Linked DNA regions of Homo sapiens: region 1 is linked to region 2. The links come from fine-mapping of genetic effects on gene expression. Tissue or cell type: whole blood. Region 2 holds a variant in brackets; the other region holds the start of a gene. All regions are shown on one strand. Distances are between the middles of the regions.

Evidence for each region. PIP is the estimated chance that this variant, and not a neighbour inherited with it, causes the effect.
Region 1: it holds the start of ANAPC7, and the variant in region 2 is fine-mapped to the expression of ANAPC7 in whole blood (TOPMed, PIP 0.91).

Annotation. Positions count from the first base shown.
Region 1 is chr12:110,399,484-110,407,592 of GRCh38, forward strand. It overlaps ANAPC7 (anaphase promoting complex subunit 7), which reads right to left and starts at 4,225. Exons shown (of 11, transcript NM_016238.3): 1 at 4,044-4,225. The coding sequence starts at 4,144.
Region 2 is chr12:110,552,284-110,560,392 of GRCh38, forward strand. All of the region lies in intron 1 of PPTC7 (protein phosphatase targeting COQ7), which reads right to left. Among named protein-coding and RNA genes, the nearest start is that of PPTC7, 27 kb to the right of the region's middle. The variant T/C (reference allele first, on the strand shown) is at 3,980.

The sequences.
Region 1 (8,109 bases), 150 kb before region 2:
TCATACATTAGTGTTTGCGGGAGGAAGGGACAATTGGAGAGTGATTACTAATAGACACGGTTTCTTTTTGTTGGGATAATGAAAACCTTCTGGAGTTAGATCATGGTGATGATCATACAATTTTGTAAATACACTAAAACCCACAGAATTGCATTATTGTGGCCATGTGCGGTGGCTTATGCCTATAATCCTAGCTACTTAGAGGCTGAGGCAGGAGAATCGCTTGAACCTGGGAGGTGGAGGTTGCAGTGAGCCAAGATCCCACCACTGCACTCCAGCCTGGGTGACGAGAGAGAGACTCTGTCTCAGACAAAAAAAAAAAAAAAAAGGGGCCAGGCGCGGTGGCTCACGCCTGTAATCACAGCACTTTGGGAGGCCAAGGAGGGAGGATCACCTGAGGTCAGGAGTTCGACCAGCCTGGCCAACATGTTGAAACCTCGTCTCTACTAAAAATACGAAAATTAGCCAGGCATGGTGGTGGGCGCCTGTAATCCCAGCTACTTGGAAGGCTGAGGGAGAACTGCTTGAACCCAGCAGGCGGAGGTTGCAGTGAGCCGAGATCACGCCACTGCACTCCAGCCCTGGCGACAGAGTGAGACTCAGTCTCCCCAGAAAAACAGAAAAAAAACAACAAAAAGAGTATAGTCTAGATGACTTAAGTTCTCTTCAAACTCTGTGATTCTATGTATGTAGTGAGAAATAACCATTTGATGCTTAGATACAAAAGTATTATTACATCCACAGAAAGCATTCAGATATGCATATAAGATACATGTCTACTTACACATGCATTAAGTTATCTCTGTAATGACACACGAAAAAATAGTTATTGCCTCTGGAGAAAGGAAATGTTGGGGTGAGGTTCAAGACTCAGGTAAAGATACTGATCTGCATGCCCCTTCTCCACTGTTTGAATTTAACAGTGTCTATTCCTATTCCACAAGAAATTTTAAAGTATAAATCATGAAGGTCAGAACTTAAACATGTCCTGAAGCTAGGAAACTGCCAATCTAACCCAATATGAAAAAGCATGGGCTAAACTTCGTCTAGCCAGAGAATTAAACTGTTTCAAACTATCCTGTAACATCTTTAAGAACTAAGAGTAACTAGGGCCTAAATCTCCAAACGTGGAAACTGTATGCTTTGGCAAATCACTCAGAACCAAGTGAAAGGCTCCAGCATAAACACATAAGGCTGACAGAGACCAGGGCTCCTGTCAACATGAAGTGGATGGTGGCAAAATGTGGGTCTCACTAGTAAGGTCCAAAGCACATTAATGAGGCTGGGCTCGGTGGCTCACGCCTGCAATCCAAGCACTTTGGGAGGCCTAAGTCATGGGGATCACTTGAGGTCAGGAGTTCCAGACAAGCCTGGCCAACATGATGAAACCCCATCTCTATTAAAAAAAAAAAAAAAATTAGCTGGGCGTGGTGGTGCGAATCTGTAATCCCTGCTACTCAGGAGGCTGAGGTGGGAGGATCGATTGAGCCTGGGAGGTGGAGGCTGTAGTCAGCCGAGATCGCACCACTGCACTCCAGCCTGGGCAACAAAGCAAGACTCCGTCTGAAAAGCAAAACAAAACAAAACACCAAAGTGCACTAATGAAAATCCAATGGGCAGCAGCAGCTGCATTGTAAGCACTTAAAGGACTTTTCCCTTCTGACCTAGACCAGCTTCTACAGCAGGCCAAACACTAATACATCTACAGAGTAAAAGTTTCCATTATAACGCCATTTGGAGGTAGCAGACTGGTGGCTCAGAATGGAGACTCTCCAGTCAGAGAAGACCAGGTCCAGGCATCGTACTCCTCCATTTATTGGATGTGTGAACTTGGACAAGGGTATTTCACCTCCCTGAGGTTGTACTCACTTCCTCAACACACTCAATAAGCATGTGAGTGCTTATTGCGCACAGCCACTGCGCTTTCAATTGGTGGGTGATGCGAAGGGTAGAAAAGTGGGAGTACCCGAGAGTCCTGGGAGTCAGAGAAGGCTCTTTAGGAGAGATATCCAGGCTAAAACCTGAAGGAGGAGGCAACGCTGAGATGAGGACCGTCGCAGGAGGAACAGCAAGTACAAGGGCCCAGAGTAGAGAACACGCTTGGTGCATTCAAATAACACAAAGAGGCCAGAAGCGATGGTTCACGCCTGTAATCCTTAAACTTTGGGAGGCCGAGGCGGCGGGATCACCAGAGGTCAGGAGTTGAAGACCAGACTGGTCGGCTGGGCGCGGTGGCTCACACCTGTAATCCCAGCACTTTGGGAGGCCGAGGCGGGCGGATCACGAGGTCAGGAGATCGAGACCATCGTGAAACCCTGTCTCTACTAAAAATACAAAAAAATTAGCTGGGTGCGGTGGCGGGCGCCTGTAGTCCCAGCTACTCGGGAGGCTGAGGCAGGATAATGGCGTGAACCCAGAAGGCGAAGCTTGCAGTGAGCCAAGATCGTGCAGAGCGAGACTCCGTCTCAAAAAAAAAAAAAAAAAAAAAAAAAGACCAGACTGGTCAATATAGTGAAACTCTGTTTCTACTAAAATAACAAAAATTAGCTGGGCGTGTGGCGCTCGCCTGTAATCCCAGCTACTTGGTTGGCTGAGGCAGGAGGATCGCTTGAACCCAGGAAGCGGAGGCTGCAGTGAGCCAAGACTGCGCCACTCAACTCCAGCATGGGCGACAGAGCGAGGCTGTCTCAAAAAAATAAAAATAAATAAACAAATAAAAACAAATAACAGAATAGCCAGGGAGGCTAGAGAGCAGTGAACAGAGTAATGAGATGAAGTCGCAGAGAGTGGAGGGCAGATATTTGCCTTCAGAGGCCATGGGAAAGAATTTTCATAAGTGCAATAAAGGATTTTTTTTTTTTTTTGAGACGGAGTCTCGCTCTGTCGTCCAGGCTGGAGTGCAGTGGTGCTACTTCGGCTCACTGCAAGCTCCGCCTCCCGGGTTCACGTTATTCTTCTGCCTCAGCCTCCCGAGTAGCTGGGACTACAGGCGCCCGCCACCACGCCTGGCTAAATTTTTTTGGTATTTTTTAAGCAGAGACGGGGTTACACTGTGTTAGCCAGGATGATCTCGATCTCCTGACCTCGTGATCCGCCCGCCTCGGCCTCCCAAAGTGCTGGGATTACAGGCATGAGCCACTACGCCCGGCCAATAAAGGATATTAAGCAGGAGAGGGACATGCACTCAAGGATGGAATCAGCTCAGTGCTTCAAGGAAACATGAAAGGCGCCACGCCCACCCATTAATGGAGTCTCCCGTTTCCTTTTTTTGAGACAGGCAGTCGTTCTGTCGCCCACGGTAAAGGACAATGATGCGATCACGGCTCACTGCAGCCTCGACCTCCTGGGTTCAAGCGATCCTCCTGCCTCAGCCTCCCGAGTAGCTGGGACCGCAGGCACGCACCATCACGCCCGGCTAATTGTTTAATTTTTACTTTTCGTAGAGGCAGGGTCTCCCTATGTTGCCCAGGTTGGTCTTGAACTCCTGGGCTCAAGCGATCCTCCCGCCTCGGCCTCCCAAAGGGCTCGTATTAGAGGCGTGAGCCACCGCGCCCGGCCCCGTTTTCAGGGGTTTCCCAAGGCCAGAAAGTGGACCCTCCTGATACACTTAACGGGGGGACCAATCTCAGATGCGGGGGCTAGCGCATAAAAACCAGGAGGCTGGGTCCCTGAGCTGCAGCGAGAGAAAAAAACGTTCTTCTGGAAGGAGCCGAGAGGGAAGGATTCAGCCTAGCGATGTGACAGTCGCGCTGCCCCGCGACAGGTGCCTCAGGAAACCCTCGCCTGGGTCGTCCTCAGAGCCTCTGCCTTCTATGTCTCCAAGCCGCCGCTCGCCACATCCCCGCGGGACTTGACGCCGGCACCCAGTGAACCCAACTTGCGCTCCGAAGTCTGCTCCGCTCCAGGACGCCCTCGCAGACCCCGGAGCCTCCGCTGGCGCCGGCGGCCGCTCCTTCCCGCCTGTTCCCACGTGCCCTGAGCCCCCGCTCCCAGACCGCCGCCGCTTTCTCCTCAGCCCCAGGCAGCTACCCGCCTCAACTCACGGGTTGTTATTACTCATTGTAAGTAACAAGCTGCTGAGGAGCCGCACGTTGGAGTGCAGCCCCGCGGCCGCCATGTCCCGCACGTGGTCTATCACATTCATCCTGCTCTGCAAAGCCGCGGGCAGCGGCGGCAGCACTGACTCGAAAAGCCGGTAGAGGATCCTTAGGGAAGACTCCAAAATGGCGGCGTCGCCGGGGTCCATCGGGTCCACACGCGGCACCACCCCCAAGCAAGAGGTAACTACTGAAGTGCCCGAATAAAAAGAAACTCGAGTCCCTGCTCCTGTCGTGGTCCTTTTCAGGTGAAATGAGTTGTTATTTTTACGCAAAAATCACGTTATCATCCTAAACTGCAAACTTTACTGAGGATTTACAATGAGACAAAAGGCACCTTATAAGACTACTCGGTCAATTTGAATGAGTCTGAGAGGAATTTGTGCCTCTCAGAAATTAAAATGTGTGGGTATTTACCGAAATAAAATACAGTAAGGTGAGGAAAAACGCTCCAACTGGAATTAAATATTCTAATCGGGCGCCAGGGACAGACCTAACGGCCTTTACAGTGGCGCATGCGCACCAGGCTAGGGCCGCCGCGCCCCTCCTCAGGTGTTTTGTGTTCCTGCCAAGTCAGGCTTCGGCCCTGGGGGAACTCCTTGGTTCGAGGGGTATATTTCCCCATGTAAAATTATTCCCTAGATCCGTGGAAATAAAGGCTGGATCCAGGAATTAGCTGATACCCATATAAACCAGTATGTGTCTGGCACACTTAACGTTTTAGGAAAGTTTTACACAAGTTATTGGGACGCTCACAACAATCCATAAAGTTGAAGTTGTCATTCCCTTCCCACAAGGGAAGAAACTGCCTGCTTAAATTTTGTGCTCAGGTTGTTAAATGGTTGACTTGGAATCAGATCGACTGGTTAATTATGTTGGATCGCAAACTCAAATGTATACAGGGACCAGGGAGGTAACTGAGCCAATGAGGCAGTTTAGGTCGTTGAGTCAGAGTCCGAATATTCTCCACAGTCATCCTCTCAGATCTAGCCTATCGCTCCTTTCTTAAAGGAGACAGTCGTTTTGGTCTAGATTTTGTTTTCATTTGATTTTTACAGTAGTAGATGCAAAAAAAATGCTCTGAAAAAATCACAGTGTATCTTCATCAGCAACTTTTTCAGCTCTTAACATTTTGTCACAGTTGAAGCTCCTGTAGATCCTTTTCCCATCTCATCCCCTACTCTAGTTTCCTGGATGTGTGAGACCTTCTATTTGATTTTGGTGGGCATCATCACTGTGAACTTTTCTTTTTTCTTTTTTTCGAGACGGAGTTTTGCTCTTGTCGCCCAGGCTGGAGTGCAAAATCTCAGCTCACTGCAACCTCTGTCACCCGGGTTCAAGGAATTCTCCCTGCCTCAGCTTCCCGAGTAGCTGGGATTACAGGCGCCTGCCACCACTGTCATGTGCGTCCGTGTGAAGAGACCACCAAACAGGCTTTGTGTGAGCAACAAGGCTGTTTGTTTCACCTGGGTGCAGGCAGGATGGTAGCAGCACGAGCCATAGGCAAAACTCCTCAGACACCAAGTTAAAGAAGGAAGGAGTATATTCGGCTGGGAGCATCAGCAAGGCTCCTGTCTCAAGAGCCGAGCTCCCCGAGTGAGCAATTCCTGTCCCTTTTAAGGGCTCACAATTCTAAGGGGGTCCGCGTGAGAGAGTCGTGATCGATTGAGTAAGCAGGGGGTACATGACATGCACCGGTGGTCAGAGTGAAACAGACCGGGAAGTTTCACAATGTCTTTCTATAATCTGTAGATAACATCAGTTGCTAGGTCAGGGGTCAGTTAAGGCAGGAACCGGCCCTTTTCACTTCTTTTGTGATTCTTCAGTTACTTCAGGCCATCTGGATGTACACATGCAGGCTTGGGTTCAGAGGCCTGACATTCCTGTCTTCTTACGTTAACAAGAAGAATAAAACGAAATAGTCGTAAAGTGTTGCGGCAGCGAAAATTTTTGGGGGTGGTATGGAGAGATAATGGGCGATGTTTTTCAGGGCTGCTTCAAGTGGGATTGGGGGTGGTGTGTGGGAACCTAGAGTGGGAGAGATTAAGCTGAAAGAAGATTTTGTGGTAAGGGACAATATTGTGGGGTTGTTAAAAGGAGCATTTGTCGTATAGAATGATTGGTGATGGCCTGGATGCAGTTTTGTATGAATTGAGAAACTAAATGAAAGACACAAGGTCTGAATTAAGAGAAGGAGAAAAACAGGTATTAAATAACTAAGAATTGGGAGGACCCAGGACATCCAATTAGAGAGTGCTCAAGGGGGTTCAGCATAATTACCTGCTTGGTTGGTGAGTTTTGGGGCTCTATCCTTGACAGAGTCCTTTTTAAGTTGGAGGCTGAGCTTGGTGAGGTGTGTTTTTAAAAGACCATTAGTCCATTCTACCTTTCCTGAAGATTGAGGACAATAATGGGTATGAAGTTTTCACTGAATACCAAGAGCCTGAGAAACTGCTTCGGTGATTTGACTAGTAAAGGCCGGTCCGTTATCGGACTGTATAGAGATGGGAAGGCCAAACCGAGGAATTATGTCTGACAGAAGGGAAGAAATGATTGCGGTGGCCTTCTCAGACCCTGTGGGAAAGGCCTCTACCCATCCAGTGAAAGTGTCTACCCAGACCAAGAGGTTTTTTTGTTTCCTGACTTGGGGCATGTGAGTAAGGTCAATTTGCCAGTCCTGGGCAGGGGCAAATCCCCGAGCTTGATGTGTAGGGAAGGGAGGGGGCCTGAACAATCCCTGAGGAGTAGTAGAATAGCAGATGGAACACTGAGAAGTGATTTCCTTGAGGATAGATTTCCTCAACGGAAAGGAAATGAGAGGTTCTAAGAGGAGGGCTAGCAGCTTGTAACCTACATGGAAGAGGTTATGAAATGACGACAGAATAGAATGGGCCTGTGAGGCTGGAAGAAGATATTTTCTTTGGTCCAAGAACCATTTGTCTTGTGTGGGAAGAGATTGATAGGTAGAAGTTTCAGTGGGGGAGTAGGTGAGAGTGACCAGATGAGAAGGAGAAAAATTGGCCGTGAGGGACAGAAGTTGGAAGGCTAAGCTGCTTCTTTAGCTACCTTGTCAGCGTAAGCGTTGCCCTGAGCGATGGGATCTGATGCCTTTTGATGGCCCTTGCAGTGAATGACTCCAGCTTCCTTTGGAAGTAAAGCGGCCTTGAAAAGAGTTTTTATTAAAGAGGCATTCATGATAGAGGACCCTTGAGTAGTAAGGAAACCTCTTTCAGCCCATATAACAGCATGGTGGTGTAGGATATGGAAGGCATATTTAGAGTCAGTATAAATATTGATGCGTAGTCCCTTTGCAAGAGTGAGGGCCTGAGTTAAGGCAATTGGTTCGGCTTGCTGAGAGGTAGTGCAGGGGGTCAGAGCAGTAGCCTCAATGATAGATGTGGAAGATACTATAGCATAGCCTGCCTTTGCTGGTGAGTGGCAATTAGGCCTGGTGGAACTGCCATCAATAAACCAAGTGTGATCAGGGTGAGGAACAGGAAAGAAGGAAATATGGGGAAATGGAGTGAATGTCAGCTGGATCAGAGAGATACAGTGATGTGGGTCAGGTGTGGTATCCGGAATAATGTGGGGGCTAGCCTAAAACAGTGAGGTCAAGTTGTTTGGACAGAAAGGCTACAGGGTGCGGTCCCAGCTCTTGTGCAAGAATTTTGACCACACAGCCCTGTACTTTGGCTGTGTGTAATGAAAAGGGTTGGGATGAGTTAGGGAGAGCTAGTGTGGGAGCAGCTTCTAGGGCTGTTTTTAAGGAACAGAAAGAGGAGTGGTGAAAAAATTTAGGATCTATGGAGTCAGCTAGGTTTGCTTTTGTGAGTTTATGTAACGTTTTAGTCAGGATGGTAAAACTAGGTATCCAAAAGTGGAAGTACCTAACAATGCATAGGAAGGAAAGGAGTTGTTGTTTTGTAGAAGGGATTGGGGTTTGGGAGATTAGCTGGACACAATCAGCAGGGAGAGCATGTGTGTTTTCACAAAGAGTTATGCCAAGATAGGT
Region 2 (8,109 bases):
CTTTGTCTTTTATAAGAATGAAAATTGATTTTTAAGCAAAGTGCTGATGCTAGTGACGATACAATTCAGTCAGAGCTGGAGATCACAAAGAACATCAAAAGCGGCAACCTTTTAACTCCAAACATTGGTCAATCGCTGGGAAATAAAGAACAAAACTGAGAACATATCCCATCCCCTCTCCTTCTACCCTGTAGAGGGCGGTACTGTACAATACAACAGCCATTCCTTACATGGTTACTGAGCACCCGAAATGAGGGAAGCCCAACTTGAGACATGCTCTAAGTATAAAACATACAGTGGGCCGGGCGCGGTGGCTCACGCCTGTAATCCCAGCACTCTGGGAGGCCGAGGCGGGCGGATCACGAGGTCAGGAGATCGAGACTGTCCTGGCTAACTCAGTGAAACCCCGTCTCTACTAAAAATACAAAAAATTAGCCAGGCGTGGTGGCAGGCGCCTGTAGTCCCAGCTACTTGGGAGGCTGAGGGAGGAGATTGGTGTGAACCCGCGAGGCAGAGCTTGCAGTGAGCCAAGATCGTGCCACTTCACTCCAGCCTGGGCAATGGGGCGAGACTCCGTCTCAAAAAAACAAACAAACAAACAAAACCACACACAGTGGATTTTGAAAACTTAGTATGAAAAAAAGTAAAATCTCTTTGGGAGGCTGAGGCAGGTAGATCACCTGAGGTCAGGAGATCGAGACCAGCCTGACCAACATGGTGAAACCCCGTTTCTACTAAAAATACAAAAAATTAGATGGGTGTGGTGGCAGGCAACTGAAATCCCAGCTACTCAGGAGGCTGAGGCTGGAGAATTGCTTGAACCTGGGAAGTGGAGGTTGCGGTGAGCCGAGATCGCGCCATTGCATCCCACCCTGGGCAACAAGAGTGAAACTCCATCGCTCTGTCACCAGGCTGGAGCAGTGGCGTGATCTCGGCTCACCGCAACCTCTCCGCCTCCTGGGTTCAAGGGATTCTCCTGCCTCAGCCTCCCGAGTAGCTGAGACTACAGGTGCGTGCCATCACGCCTGGCTTTTTTGTATTTTTAGTAGAGAAGGGGTTCACCGTGTTAGCCAGGATGGTCTCATCTCCTGACCTCATGATCTGCCAGCCTCGGCCTCCCAAAGTTCTGGGATTACAGGCATGAGCCACTGCGCCCGGCCCCCAAAATCTCTAATTTTTATATTCATTACTTACATACTGAAATTGTATTTTGGGCCAGGCATGGTGGCTCATGCCAATAATCCCAGCACGTTGGGAGGCCAAGGTGGGAGAATCACTTGGGCTCAGGAGTTCAAGACCTGCTTGGACAACACAGTGAGTCCCTGACTCTACTAAAAATAAAAAAATTAGCCAGGCATAGTGGTGTGCACCTGTAGTCCCAGCTACTCAGGAGGCTGAGGCGGGAGGACTGCTTGAGCCCCAGTGGTTGGGGCTACCGTGAGCCATGATTACGCCACTGCACTCCAGCGTGGGTGGATCAGCAAGACCTGGTCTCAAAAAATGAAACAGAAAAAGAATATTTTAGATATAATGCACCAAAGAGAATGCATTATCAAGACTGAGCTCACCTTTCTTTATTTACCTATTTTTTTTGAGACAGAGTCTCGCTCTGTCGCCCAGGCTGCTGGAGTACAGTGGCGTGATCTCAGCTCATGGCAACCTCTGCCTCCCAGGTTCAAGTGATTCTCCTGCTTCAGCCTCCCTAGCTGGGACTACAGGTGCTCGACACCACACCTGACTTGCATTTTTAGTAGAGACAGGGTTTTGCCATGTTGGCCAGGCTGGTCTCAAACTCCTGACTTCAAGTGATCTGCCCATCTCGGCCTCCCAAGGTGCTGGGATTATAAGCATCGGCCACTGCATCCGGCCAAATTTCACCTTTTAAAAAATTAACTATTATTATTTTTAGAGACAGTGGCTTGTTCTGTTGTCCAGGTTGGAGTGTAGTGTTACAATCACAGCTCATTGCAGTCTTGAACTCCCAGGCTTAAGTGATCCTCCTACCTCAGCCTCCTGAGTAGCAAGGACTACGGGGTCATGCCACCACACCCAGCTAGTTTTTGTTTGTCTGGCAATACAGAGTCAGGATCTCACTGTATTGCCCAGGCTTATTTTGAACTCCTGGGCTCAAGTGATCCTCCTGCCTCAGCCTCCCAAAATGCTTGGATTACAGGCGTGAGCCACCATGCCTGGCCTCTTTTTATTTTTAGTTAATATGAATATTAGGAAATTTAAAATTACATATGTGGCTCACATTATATTTCTACTGGATAGTACTAGTATAGAGATTTTCGTAGGCCCAAAGAGTTGCTGATGAGTTCAGAGTCTGCTTAGAGCTCCTTTATCAAGAGGAAATTAGTGTTTATGAAAGTCAATAAAATATCAAAGCCATCATACAATCTTCTACTCAAACTCTTGCAAAACACCAAGCTATTCTTTCCAACACTAAAACCAATTTCTATCTACTAAATTCAAAGACACTGAGAGAAAATGTCAAAAATATACATTATTAAGGCTTTAAATGGCCTTTCTGGAAGGATCCATAAGAAATATTAGCAATGGTTGCTTTAGAAATAAGGAACTGAAAACGATCCATGAACAAAATGGGAATTTTTGCCTTTTACTTCATACCATTCTGTATTAATTTTATTTTTATCATGAGCATGTATCATATGATTTTTTAAAACAGGGATTTTTTAATTTTTAAAACTTTCTGAGCATGAAACATCCTTCCCATACACACATTTATTTTTTGTACATTCAACTTTAAGAATGTATTTGGTACAAAAGTAGCAGAGTGCCTATATATACATCCCTGAAAAATTGGCTTAACATGAATTGGACATGTGAAACTATTTCTCTGGGGATGGCAGTTAACAAAAAGAAAGGGAACACATCGTGAAAAAGTAAGAGGAAACAGAATTGGAAGACATAAAGAAGGCAACAAATAGTGTATCACCACTGGGACAGCAACTTTCCCCACCTATGTGACCAACCAATAAACCAAATTTCATGACAGGGCAATTCCAAATTAGCTAATTAAAGTAATAAAAACTCTGGGATTCGTTTCAAAATATTTAAGGGGTTGAAGGGGGAGTGACAGAAGCACAGATGAAAGAAGACTGGCCATGAATGGATCGTTGTTGAAGCTGAATAAGAAGAACACCCATCTCTCTACTTTGATATATATTTGAAATTTTCCATAACACAACATTTAAATAATAACAATGATAACAAGTTTAAAAAGAAAAAAGACCCTTTTGCCTGCTGTGTGGAGAGCAAGAGCGGAAGGAGTTTAAGTAAGAGATCCATTTCATAGTCCACTCGCAATCTGCTGGCAGTGTGGTTAGAGGCGTGCAGACATTTGGTATCCATGAAACAGAACACGTGGATTGAGGGGTGAGGGAAAGAGAAGCAACCGGGCTAACTAGGGATCTATCTTACAAGGAACAGCACATTTCATTGTTTTTCAAGGAGTTGTGAAGAGGTTTGGGAAACTTATATTAAAAGAATTTAAGATCATTTCAATAGGAACTTCTTTGGAGAAACTCTTATTTTACTAGGAGTAAGATTTCACCATAATTTAAAACACAACAATTTATGTTAAAACACAGAATATAATTATAAGCCTTGCAACACTATCTGATGAATCATTCATTCTTTTCAAACCACTGCCTGCTTCAGGGAAGAATTTCTTCTTAAGTAGTCTCTGGTACAACTACAATTAACTTTAAATACAAATTGGTTTCATCTGCAAATGCTCTTCACAAGAAAACCATTAAAATCTAAGATAACGTTTAGAGTTGATCCTCGATCCTCGCACTCACTAAATAATCTGTCAGCAGGTTGAGTCTGACCTGACACAGCCCTTCAACATTAATCAGATTTCTCCCAGAATACAGCACAACCTTTTGGGCACCTGTTTGCTTTTTTACACGGGCAAAGGATGCCAAGCAAAACACCACTGACCAAATCTCTT[T/C]AGGGGAGAGAGAAATTCAAAAAGCATATAAACTCTTCAATAAAGCTGCAGGGAAAAAAGCCTTAATACAGTGCATATATATAACTAAATTATATAAGGGGAAGAGTTGTATTTGGGATGAGAATCAGACTAAAACTAGAATAACCTACTACACGTACATATGAAACCTAATTTTATTCATATTAGGTGGTTGTTTCTACACAGAAATTAATATGTCCTCTATTGCATAAGCAAAAGCTTCAGACTGCAAAGAGCAAGAATACCCTTTAAACAGTGGAACTGATCCAGATATAAAGGGAAATTTCATTCAGAATACATGTCAAAGGTAAAGAAAACTGTTAAAGGAGAAATTGCTTAAGATCCCAAAGATGTCAGGAACACAACTATCAAACAGCAAAGGATAAGAATAAGAATACCCTAAGAGCAAATGGAGGCCACACGTGGACCACCACATTGTGCATGCTGCGCTAGGAAATAAGACGGCTGAGAAAGCCGGTCTCTGAGAAGCTCCCCTGCTAGTGGGGTGCTAGACTTCTCACAGAGAAACCAGACAAACGGCTCCCATAAACACTGCTGCAGGAGGGTCAACAGCCAGTGGTTAGTGCTTACGGACACCACGAGAATGCAGCGCCTCAAGAACAGTGCCAGCCTGCTCTGAAAGTGGCATTCGGATAGGCCCTGGCAGGGGTCAGCCAGATTTCCACGGCAGGGAAGGATAACAAGAGGAAAAGAAAGGCAGACAACTAGATGCTGGGGCTTGGGTGAGCAGGGAGAAGCTGAAAAATGAAGGGCAGTAGCGAAAGTTGTAGAAAATCAAGAATGCCAGTTCAAGAACTCTAAAGTTCTTTATGCTACTGACCTGTGCTGTCTAACATGGGAGCCACTAGCCACATGTGGCTATTGAGTCTAAAATCTCACTTGTTTGGATTGAGAAGTGCTTGCTATGAAGTGTAAAATACATTCTGGATTCCAAAAACTTAGTACCAACAAAAGAAAAACTAAAATGACTTAGTAGTAGTTTTGTTTTCTTTTAAGAGATGGGGTCTCACTCTAGCCCAGGCTGGAGTAGTGGCCTGATCATAGCTCACTGCAGTCTTGAACTCCTGGGCTCAAGTATTCCTCCCACCTCAGCCTCCTTAGTAGCTGGGATTACAGACACACCCTGATACACCCCGCTACTTTTTTTTTTAAGTTTTTGTAGAAACAGGGTCTCACTATGTTGTCCAGGCTGGTCTCAAACTTCTGGGCTCAAGCAATCTCACACCTTGGCCTCCCAAAGTGCCGAGATTATGGGCATGAGCCACAGGATCTGGCCAAGTTTAACACATATATTAGGCATACTCAAGAGGTTAACAACGATAATAAAACAGAATAATTATAACAATATACTATAATAAATGTTGTGTGAATGTGGTCTCTGTCTGTATTATTGTTAGGTAATGTGGGTATATTAGTCCATTCTCATGCTGCTATGAAGAAATACCTGAGACTAGGTAATTTATAAAAGACGGAGGTTTAATTGAGTCACAGTTCTGCATGGCTGGGGAGGCCTCAGGAAACTTACAATCATGGCAGAAGGGGAAGCAAACACATCCTTCTTCACATGGCAGCAGGAGAGAGAAGTGCTGAGCAAAGGGGGAAAAGCCCCTTATAAAACCATCAGATCTTATGAAAACTTCACTATCACAATAGCAGCATGAGGGTTTATGGGGATTATTATGGGAACTACAATTCAAGATGAAATTTGAGTGGGGACAATGCCAAAACACATCAGTGGGTAATTGAAACCTCAAATAAGAGGGAACTACTGTTTCTGGATTTGGGGAATTAGAAAATATTGATTAGATTATTCTACAGTTGGCAAGGGTGTGTAAATGCCTTTAAAAGACATTTAATTCTGTCTTGGGTATGTCAAACTTCAGGTGCCAGCAGGGCATCTTTGTGGAAGTGTTGTGTATAAAGTGAGGAACTATGAGTTTGCGGCTGGCAAGGCAAGTTGGGGCCAGAAAATCTGAGAATTGATACCTTAGTGGTAGGGTATCCAGTTTGTCAGAATGATATAATCTCTATGGAGGTAGAGAGAAGTGAAGCTAAAAAGGAGGCTGAATTAATGACTAGAAGGGCCTTGAATGCCAAGATAAAGAGGTTGCACCGAATATAGAAGCTATTTCCTTTAATTCACTGTAATCATCTTATGTCTCCATTAATAACATTCTGTGAGCACACATCTAGCTTAAGTGTTTCCCTTGACCCAAAATCCAATTAAAATCACTATTAGATTAAGATAATGGTTACATATCAGAAATAGCTGAGCAAAAGATTGAGAAGAGACCATAGGGCACAGAAAAATCCTTTAGTGTTTTTGTTTGTTTTTGTTTTTTGAGACGGAGTCTCGCTCTGTCGCCCAGGCTGGAGTGCAGTGGTGCGATATTGGCTCACTGCAACCTCCGCTTCCCAGGTTCAAGTGATTCTCCCGCCTCAGCCCCCCAAGTAGCTACCACGCTCCGCTAATTTTTTGTATTTTTAGTAGAGACGGGGTTTCACCGTGTTGGCCAGGATGTTCTCAAACTCTTGACTTCATGATCCGCCCGCCTCGGCCTCCCAAAGTGCTGGGATTACAGGTGTGAACCACCGTGCCCAGGCTAGTTTTATCTTTTCAATGGAAATGTCAGTTTTATGAAGCAAAACGAGCAATTAGAAAATAGTTACAGTATTTATGTTTTTACAAAGTATTTTATTAAGTTTTCCATAGACTGATGCTTTTTCCCTTTTTCTTTTTTTAACAGCATCCTGCTCTGTCACCCAGGCTGGAGTGCAGTGGTGCAAACACAGCTCACTGCAACTTTGAACTCCTGGGCTCAAGGGATCCTCCCACTTCAGCCTCCAGAGTAGCTATGACTACAGGAATGCACCAACACACACAACTCATTTTTTTAAAAATTTTTTTTGTAGAGATGCGGTCTCATTATGTTGCCCAGGCTGGTCTCAAACTCCTGGGGTCAAGTGATCCTCCTGCCTCAGTCTCCCAAAGTGCTGGGATTACAAGCACAAATCACCATGCCTGGTTTCTACAGTTAAGAGTTAAAAAGGGAAGCAAAAAGAGTAATTCTGGGTGTCTGCCATCATTAAGTGTTTATAAGAAGAAAAAAATTTTTTTTTTTTTTTAAGAAATGGGGTCTCGGGCCCAGCGTGGTGGTTCACGCCTGTAATCCCAGCACTTTGGGAGGCCGAGGTGGGCAGATCACTTGAGGTCAGGATTTCAAGACCAGCCTGTCCAACATGGTGAAACCCCGTCTCTACTAAAAATACAAAAATTAGCTGGGTGTGGTGGTGCGTGCCTGTAATCCCAGCTTCTTGGGATGCTGAGGCAGGAGAATCACTTGAACCTGGGAGGTGGAGGTTGCAATGAGCCAAGATTGCATCACTGCACCCCAGCCTGGGCGACAGAGCAAGACTCAGCCTCAGGGGAAAAAAAAAAAAAAAAAAAAGAAATGGGGTCTCACTCTGTCACCCAGACTGGAATGCAGTGGTGTAGTAATAGCTCACTGCGGCCTCAAACTCCTGAGCTCAAGAGATTCTCCCATTTCAGCCTCCTGAATATCTGGGACTACAGGCATGTGCCACCATACCCAGCTATTTATTTTTTGTAGGGATGGGTCCTCGCCATGTTGCCCAGGGTGGTCTTGAACTCCTAGGCTGAAGTGATCCTCCTGCTTCGGCCTCCCAAAATGCTAGAATTACAGGAATGGGCCACTGAGCCCAGCCAAGAAGAAAATTCTTAAGCAATTTTCATTTTTCTAATTAACATGTTTTTGTCTTTGCCAAAATGGTATAACCATGTAAAATGGTAGTTATGACCAGGCGTGGTAGCTCATACCTGTAATCCCAGCATATTGGGAGGCTGAGGTAGGAGGATTGTTTGAGCCAAGGAATTCGAGACCAGCCTAGGCAACATAGCAAAACCCGTCTCTACAAAAAAATTTAAAAATCAGCCAGGGATGGTGGCACACACCTGTAGTTCCAGCTAAACAGGAGGCTGAGGGTGGGAGGACTGCTTGAGTCCAGGAGGTCAATGCTGCAATGAGCTGTGATCACACTACTTGCACTTCAGCCTGAGCGACAGAGCGAGA